Linked DNA regions of Homo sapiens. The protein of the gene in region 2 interacts with the protein of the main gene of each other region in a biochemical or structural test. Each region holds a gene or a part of one and is shown on either strand. Other genes may lie near its edges.

What was found.
Region 1: the proteins of YWHAB (region 2) and RIPK2 form a complex in vitro, tested with the Homo sapiens proteins (one study listed by BioGRID).

Annotation. Positions count from the first base shown.
Region 1 is NC_000008.11:89,781,816-89,785,315, reverse strand, and holds part of RIPK2 (receptor-interacting serine/threonine-protein kinase 2), read right to left. Parts: intron 1,267-3,500; coding exon 1,177-1,266; intron 1-1,176.
Region 2 is NC_000020.11:44,905,043-44,909,779, forward strand, and holds the end of YWHAB (14-3-3 protein beta/alpha), read left to right. Parts: coding exon 1-89; intron 90-958; coding exon 959-1,054; intron 1,055-1,339; coding exon 1,340-1,396; 3' UTR 1,397-3,490; downstream 3,491-4,737. UniProt on the Homo sapiens protein: Adapter protein implicated in the regulation of a large spectrum of both general and specialized signaling pathways. Binds to a large number of partners, usually by recognition of a phosphoserine or phosphothreonine motif.

The DNA.
Region 1 (3,500 bases), on a different chromosome or scaffold from region 2:
TTTAGTAGAGATGGGGTTTTGTCATGTTGGCCAGGCTGGTCTCGAACTCCTGACCTCAAGTGATCCACCCACCTTGGCCTCCCAAAGTTCTGGGATCACAGACTTGAGCCATCGTGTCCACCCATGAAACAATGTTTTGACTGCGACCTATCATATGAGGTCAGATGTTGCTATGGTTTGATATGGTTTGTTTGTCCCCACTAAATCTCACATTGAAATTTGATCCCCAATGTGGTGGTGTTGGGAGGTGGGGCTTAATGGGAGGTGTTTGGGTCATGGGGGAAGATCCCTCATGAATAGCTTGGTGCCATTCTAGAAGTGGTGAGTGGATTCCTGAGAGAGCAAGCTGTTAAAGAACCTGACTTCCTCATTTTCACTCTCCTGCATCCTGTCTCACCATGTGATTTCTCTGCATAGCTCGCTCCCCTTCTACTTTCCAACATGAGTGCAAGCGGCCTAAGGTCCTCATCAGATGCAGCTGCCCAATCCTGGACTTTCTGGCTACCAGAATTGTGAGCCAAATAAACCTCTTTTCTTTATAAATTACCTACTCTTAGGTATTTCATTATAGCAACGATAAACAGACTAACACAGGTGTGGAATTTTCCACTTGTGGCATCATGTTGGTGTTCAAAGTTTTGGACTGTGGAGGGCTTTGGATTTTTGGATTAGGGATGCTCAATCTATGTTACTTTTCTAATTCTGTAAAATGAACATACATATACATTCTTAAAAGAAATTACTAATTCAGACTAATATAAGTCTGATTGAATGCTACTAAAGAGATCTTTCTTCCTAGGCAGCAATGTTTTCCTCTCATTAATTATTATAAGAGGTAAGAACAAGGTAGCATAAATACAGTGTTAAAACTGTAATCAATGATTTGCCTACATAATACCCTGGGATATCATTTATTGTATAAAACAATGACAGGGACAGAACTCAATGTCAAACAAAGAAGCAATAATTGTGATTTGATGGGATGAACAATGAACTGAGAATCAGTACAGCTGGGTTTCAAGTTGGAGATTGACATGAGCTACCAAACAAATCCTAAAAGCTCCCTGGGCTTTAGTTTTCCTTCTATAAAAGAAGGGCTTAGACCAAATGATTTTTTCAAATTCTTCTCACATTTTGAGTTTAATATAACCTTTTTTTTTTTTTTTTTTTTTTTACCTCTTGTGGACCATGATTTACAGGTATGTTCAGAGATAATTCCATTTTCTTCTTGTCACATAGGTGAATGGCACTTGAAACACTCTGTAACTGTAATGAATACATAAATATATATACACTTTAACTGGAGATGATTAGGAAATTATAGAAGTAAAATACAATCTAACACATTTTATATGTTTGTACAAAATACATGGAAAGAAAATATAAAGAGTTGAGAATATAACATATAACTGAAGGAAAAGACAGTGTAGAACGGGAAATAACTTTAGAAACACAGACTTTGAATCCTGGCTCATATTAATTGGTTACCTTCTCTCAGTGTCTCAGAGCTTCATCCTCGAAATCTAACAATTACCTACATGCAGGATGGTTCTAGAGATTGAGCTTATAAATATGAAATATCTGGTATAAACTAGGTACTTAATAAATTTTTGGGAATTTTTGGGAGTGTGATTGTATGTCTATCTATAGTTAAGTATTTACCACATTTTAGGCACTGTGCCTGTAAGTACTATTATTATTTTCATTTTATAGTTAAGAGATTGAGGCTTGGACTAAGTAAAGGAGGTAGAGTGTCAATAATGGAATGGCAGGGCCATGGAGCCAATCAGATGTGATTTAGAGACCCACATCTGTTTGACGTGAGACATTAGATTTAATCTCAGTTTACTTATCTGTACACTGGAGATAAAAATTCCTATTTTGAAGGATTACTGTGAGGAAAATGAAAAGTAATATATGCAAAAAGGCCCAAACATTACTTGTAAGCATTCAATAAATGGTAGCTGCTGAGTAGATGATTTACTTAAATACTATTCTTTTGTGTTAAAATTAAGTGGTTTATTCCTGTCTATATAAGCTAGGCTTGGATTAGTTTCCATCACTACTCAGTGATTTAAATACAAACCTATCAATCATTTTCTTCCCCAGACCATCATAATGTCAACTACTCTTCAGAATTTGGAAAATGGTGAATTCACACCCAGCCATCCATTATGCACATTTATGACTGCATACTCCATTTACATGGCTAAGGAACTTCAGAAGGAAATTACTCTTATTCATCTGTGTATATAATGTACCTAGCACAGGGCGTTATACACAGCAGTTCAATAAACATCTATAAACATATTGTTATATGACCCTTTAAAATGAGTTTTTGGTTTTATCTCTGTTATGTGAGGTTTTCCTCTGCTTATAAAATTTGCCAAAACATTTCTGATAATGCAATATCCTTGAATTAGTAACAGTTTTTCATAACTGATCAGTTATGATAATTCAAATTACTTGTGAATTAGTGAATCTGTCCCTAAGAAGAAATGAACAACTGAAGAAAAACTATGTTTATTCAGTGTTTATTATTCAAGATTTAGAAGCCAATTACCTAGGAAAACATAAATTACGGGAGCTGATTCCAAGAGTTGAAAAAATGTAGGAAACTCAAAACAAATTTCCCTACTAATTTTGGCTTTCAGAATTTTTTTTTTTTTTTTCTTAAGAGACAGGGTCTTGGTATGTTGCCCAGGTTGGACTGGAACTCCTGGGCTCAAGAGATCCTCCTGCTTCAGCTTTCAGAGTAACTGGGACTATAGGCATGTACCATCACACCTAGCTCAGAAATTTCTTTATGAAGAATCTTATTTAATTCGTGTTCTACTGTTGTCCCTGACATTAGCTTACTGTGTGAGATGTACATAAGTGACTAACTTCCCTATACGGTAGTCCCCCTCTTATCTTGGTTTCACTTTCCGCAGTTTCCATTACCCTTGCTCAACTGTGGTTTGAAAATATTAAATGTAAAATTCTAGAAATAAACAATTCATAAGTTTTAAGTCACATGCAGTTCTAAGTAGTATGATGAACCTACAGCTCCATTCCACCCAGGATGTGAATCATCCCTTTGTCCAGCATATCCATGCTGTATAAGCTACCACCCTGTTAGTACCAGAACAACTGTCAGGATCACAGTGCTTGTACTCAAGTAACTTTTTTTTTTGAGACAGGGTCTCACTCTGTCACCCTGGCTGGAGTGCCAGCTCACTATAGCCTCTACCTCCTGGGTTCAAGTGATCCTCCTATCTCAGCCCTCAGTAGCTACGACTACAGGCATGTGCCACCACACCCAGCTATATTTTTTGTTTTGTTTTGTTATGTTTTTTTGCCACATTGCCTAGGCTGTTCAAATAACTCTTATTACTAATTAAGTCAACTCTTACTACTAATGGCCCAAAGTGCAAGAATAGTGATGCCAGAATATTGTTAGAATTGTTCTACTTTATTATCGGTTATTGTTAATATATTACTGTGCCTATCTTATAAAT
Region 2 (4,737 bases):
CAATTCGTCTTGGTCTGGCACTAAATTTCTCAGTCTTTTACTATGAGATTCTAAACTCTCCTGAAAAGGCCTGTAGCCTGGCAAAAACGGTGAGAAAGACCCTTTGTGATATCTAACCATAGCAAAACAGTGCTTGTGTTATTAACTTCATTTTATTCCTGAACATACTCATTGTCTTGGACTTTTTTTGAAAGATTTTCTGGGGGTGGGAGTGTATCTTTTATGAGATAAATACAGATCTGTTACTTTTTTAATTCATTCTCAATACCTTCTGCTGACTTTGTTTGATTACTGTTTTTTGCGGGTGGTTGTAGAAAGTTCCAGGTGAATGTAGTTAGTTGTTTCTTACCAAGCTTTGGGCCTTGGTTATACATTGTCATTCTCATGCCAAGATTTGAGGTTATAGTTGTATAAAAGAAATACACAGCACATTCTTGTTGTGTGTTGGATTACCTTCCATATTCTTCCTTTGGCCTTCTCTACATATTTTTTATAGTCCCTCAACATGCACACAACTTTTTAAAAACATTTTTATTCGGGAAAGGTGCCTTAAAGTTCCGTCACTTAAATCAGATTTAGTGATGTGAGTTTCCAGACATTTTGAGTTTTAGTTTAAATAAATAAATAATTTTAAATAGAAGATTGCTAGAAAAGTCTTTGGTAATTAAAAAATCACACGCGTTTGCCCAGAATGACTGTGCTAGGGTTAGCAGTAATACTGCTTAGTTATTAGGTACAGCAAAGTTCTTACCTTGGAGTTTCTGTCATTGTTGGTTGGTGCTTTGTAAATATGCCTTATACTTCTGCTGGAAACAGCTAACAGACAGGGTAATAATAGCCTAGGTTCCCCCAAAGTACTGTACAAGAAGATAAGTTATATTCACCTAGCGGGAAAAAAAGTGGGCTAAACTAGCTCCAGAGAACTTGTGAATTCTTTGCTAAAGGCTCTTTGTTTTAGGCATTTGATGAAGCAATTGCTGAATTGGATACGCTGAATGAAGAGTCTTATAAAGACAGCACTCTGATCATGCAGTTACTTAGGGACAATCTCACTGTAAGTACTACTTCCACAGGGTTTATAGTCTCTTTCCTATTCACCTACTTAATAATTCACTGTTATCTTCAAGAGGGGATTTGTACCATTAAATGTAGTTACAGTTTTAAGTTGTTAAATTTGTTATAAATGACTGCTGAAGTTTTGACCTTTGCAATCATCCCTGTCTGCAGTGACACAGGAATAATTTTAAACTGTCGAGTGAGATAAGATTATACATACTGGGCCACTTACCTAGGGAACTTTTAGTAGCCCTGCTTTGATTATACTTCCTTTCTCTTGCAGCTGTGGACATCGGAAAACCAGGGAGACGAAGGAGACGCTGGGGAGGGAGAGAACTAATGTTTCTCGTGCTTTGTGATCTGTTCAGTGTCACTCTGTACCCTCAACATATATCCCTTGTGCGATAAAAAAAAAAAAAAAAAAAAAAAGAGAATCGTACGTCGACTTTCGATTTTTCACAGCCTCAGCCTAGGAAAAATGGTTCATGGGATAAACAGCTGGTATTTGTATCTAAAACTCAGATTGGTCACATAAATGCCACGGCATTCCGAAGTTTTGATTTTGATTAACATTGACAGGATTACTGTGTGTTTAATTTTTTAAAAACTGAACACTGTGATTATGGGGTTTTGTAATTTAGCAGAACTCTTACTGGTAGAAAAAATAGACCTGAATTATGTGTAACTTTTTGGAAGGTTTAATCTGATATCAAAATAATCATTGAAATACAATTCCATTGTAAAGTTGTACAGAAAGTTATAGAGATTATATTGTGATGCTGGAACTTGGAGTGAGACACACATCATTTGGCATTTGAGTTGAATGGTAATTCACAGTAATGCTGCCGTTGTTCGGGACTTAAAGACACTTGACCTGTTTGGGCTGTTGCCACTTAAAAGTTCATGACCACAAATGTCCACAGTGTCTTCCTCTGAGGAAACTCGAATCCTGAAATGGAAATTCTTTGTGGCAGATAACTGGCTTATGACACCTTGAAAAGTTCAAGTGCTCATATAACACACCACACTGAACCCCCTTTCCTACAGCAATATGTTCACTATGTTACCAATTTGCAACTTGTGCTTCAATAGTGGAATCTACTTTCATTGTTAACACTGAGCTAAAGAAAAAAAGCCGTGTGTTTTATGAATGACCTTATCTGTTTCCTGGATAATACCTTTAAGAATAATGTCCTGAGTCAGGCGTGGTGGTGCGTGCATCTAGTCCCAACTATTTGGGAGGCTGAGGCAGGAGGATCGCTTGAGCCCAGGAGTTTAAAGCTGCAGTGCCCTGTGGTTGCACCTGTGAATAACTGCACTCCAGCCTGGGCAACATAGCGAGACCTCATCTCCAAAAAAGAAAACAAAAAACAAAAAAAGGAATGATGTTCTGTAGAGATGGCCTTTCACTTGAGGAGTACTCAGTTTTCAGGTTCTTCCTAGCTCGGGGCTTTTAAATTTTGAAATCTAAACATTCTTTCCCACCATCCTTTTTGACTGTTGACCTTGGTTTTCTCTTCTAAGTTTCTGTCCCTCTGCTTCCTTACTTTTTTTCCTTTTTGAATTCTATCTTTATCTGTCTTTTGTTCACTTTTTAATGCTATATATGGGCAGGGGTGAGAGACATTACTGAGCACCTTGGTGAGCAAGCCTGGCTTTAAAGATTGGAGAAGAGCTTCTGGCACCAGAACCCTGTCTTCCTCCAGTTCTCAACACGGTGTTGCTCTTCAGTCATACCGGAATCTGAATCAAAAAAGTATTTTTAAATATCCATGATTTCTCCCTGTATTGAGGCTAGCCCTGATCATGCTTTTTGTGCCTGTCACCAGGTCTCCCAAGTGCACTCATCCAGGTCAGTGCTCAGATGTGTTTAAGGAGACCCTATATTCAGGGAAGTTGCGTGAACACTGCAGTGGGGAGAATTGAGAATAGTCAGGCCTATCAGTCTCACAGAATCACCCCTCTACCTTTGATATTCCACTTAGCTGTAGAGTCCATCTGTTTGTCCATCTGCTGAAATGAGAAAAGAAAAATTTATGCACTGATTTAAAACAAACCAAAAAAAAAGAAAAAAACAAAAAAAAAAATCCCTCCTTTCTAGCTGAACAAAAATGTGCAGTTAATACTTGGCGCTTGAAAATGCAGTAGTGAATGTGGAACCAAGCCTGTCTGTATATCTGGTAGCTCTTTTCTTGCTTTGTTTTTTCTTACCAGTATTCTGCCTAACGTTTGCTTCTGTGATGGTTATATTGCCTAGCAAGCACACCCGTGGTTGTGAAAATAGTATAGCAAAAAAGAAAAATCCCCGGTTATTGATGTACTAGATTTGTGTATGTCTTTTAAACAGTTCTAGTTTCACCTTACACAGAATAATCAGGAAAAGTGTAAAAATTCAAAAGTGAAATAAAAATTTTATCAGTTAGTTGCCTGTGAATTGATGTGTCACCACCATCTCTGTTGTTACCAGACCTAGCTAACTATTCTGATCACACTTATTTTTAACTCTGTTTTCTTTAAAAATAGGCAAACAGTTTTATTTCATTATTTAGGACCAGAAGTCAAGGTGTTATCCAGGGGAAGAAATTACCATTAATTAAACAGCCTCTTTACACCCGTTACTTGATACCTCTCTACCTTCCACAACAAACCATGCAGGTATTAGGTCCTCTTTAGTGACTTCTAAGATTTGGTATGGACAGTTATTTTGCATTGTATTCGAGCCCACCATCCCTTCCCCATTTTTTAACTCTGAGATACAACCAAGCCAGTGAAATAGGTAACCTATGGTTGCATAAGTCTTGGTCATCACCAAGCTGGCGTCTCACCTGTCCTCACACTGTATGGTGGCCTGCAGAGCTGGTTCCTCACAGGATTTGCCCCTTCTGAAAACATCCACATTACCACAAGGAGAGAAAAATATCAGGATAGAGGGGTCTTTTTTAGCCCAAGATTAGAATTAGTGCTTCCTTGCTACTCTGAGGCTGGACAGCCAGATGGGCACCTTCTGTCCCTAGTTTAGGAGCTGTTCCACCTGTTGAAGCCACACTCAACCAAAAGTCAGTGGGGGCCTACCTGCTCTGTTGGATCAGTGAGACCAGGAAAGTCCTATCAGAGGAAAAGTGAAGTATTGGTGCTCAGTGGAGTAGTTGTTTTGTTTTTGTGTTGTTTTTAATGTCCCTATACCACAGATTGACGCTGCAAGCTCAGATTCACAGTCTTGCTCTGTTTAGGTCTTGCTCTGCTATTAGTTCCCAATTGTCCGCATTTAGGCTGAGCCACAAGTAACTCAGTGAACCTCCCTGGTGTAATGGATGTGTAATGGCTTAGCAGAGGGACAGGGAATATCCCAGGAAAAGGGGTCTTGGTAATATGAGCCAGTACCAAGAAAGGCCTTAGTGGTCTCCAGTTCTCATGTCTCAAAGCCATTTCCATCCTTGGTGCGAAACGGTGGGACTGGATCAGGCTCTCTGGAGGAAGACATCTTCAATGGAGCAGGGTAAAATTCTCTACACAAGCTTTGAAACAGTGGCCTGTTCGGAATTCCGTTTGTGTGTGAAACGCAAAAAGCGCGGTTTGGGTCTCCTTTCATTCTTGTCAGGAGGGAATCATTCCCATTTTACAGAGAAGGGAAACGGGTTCAGAAAGATGATCATCTGTTCCGGGGTTAGAACTCAGTCCCCT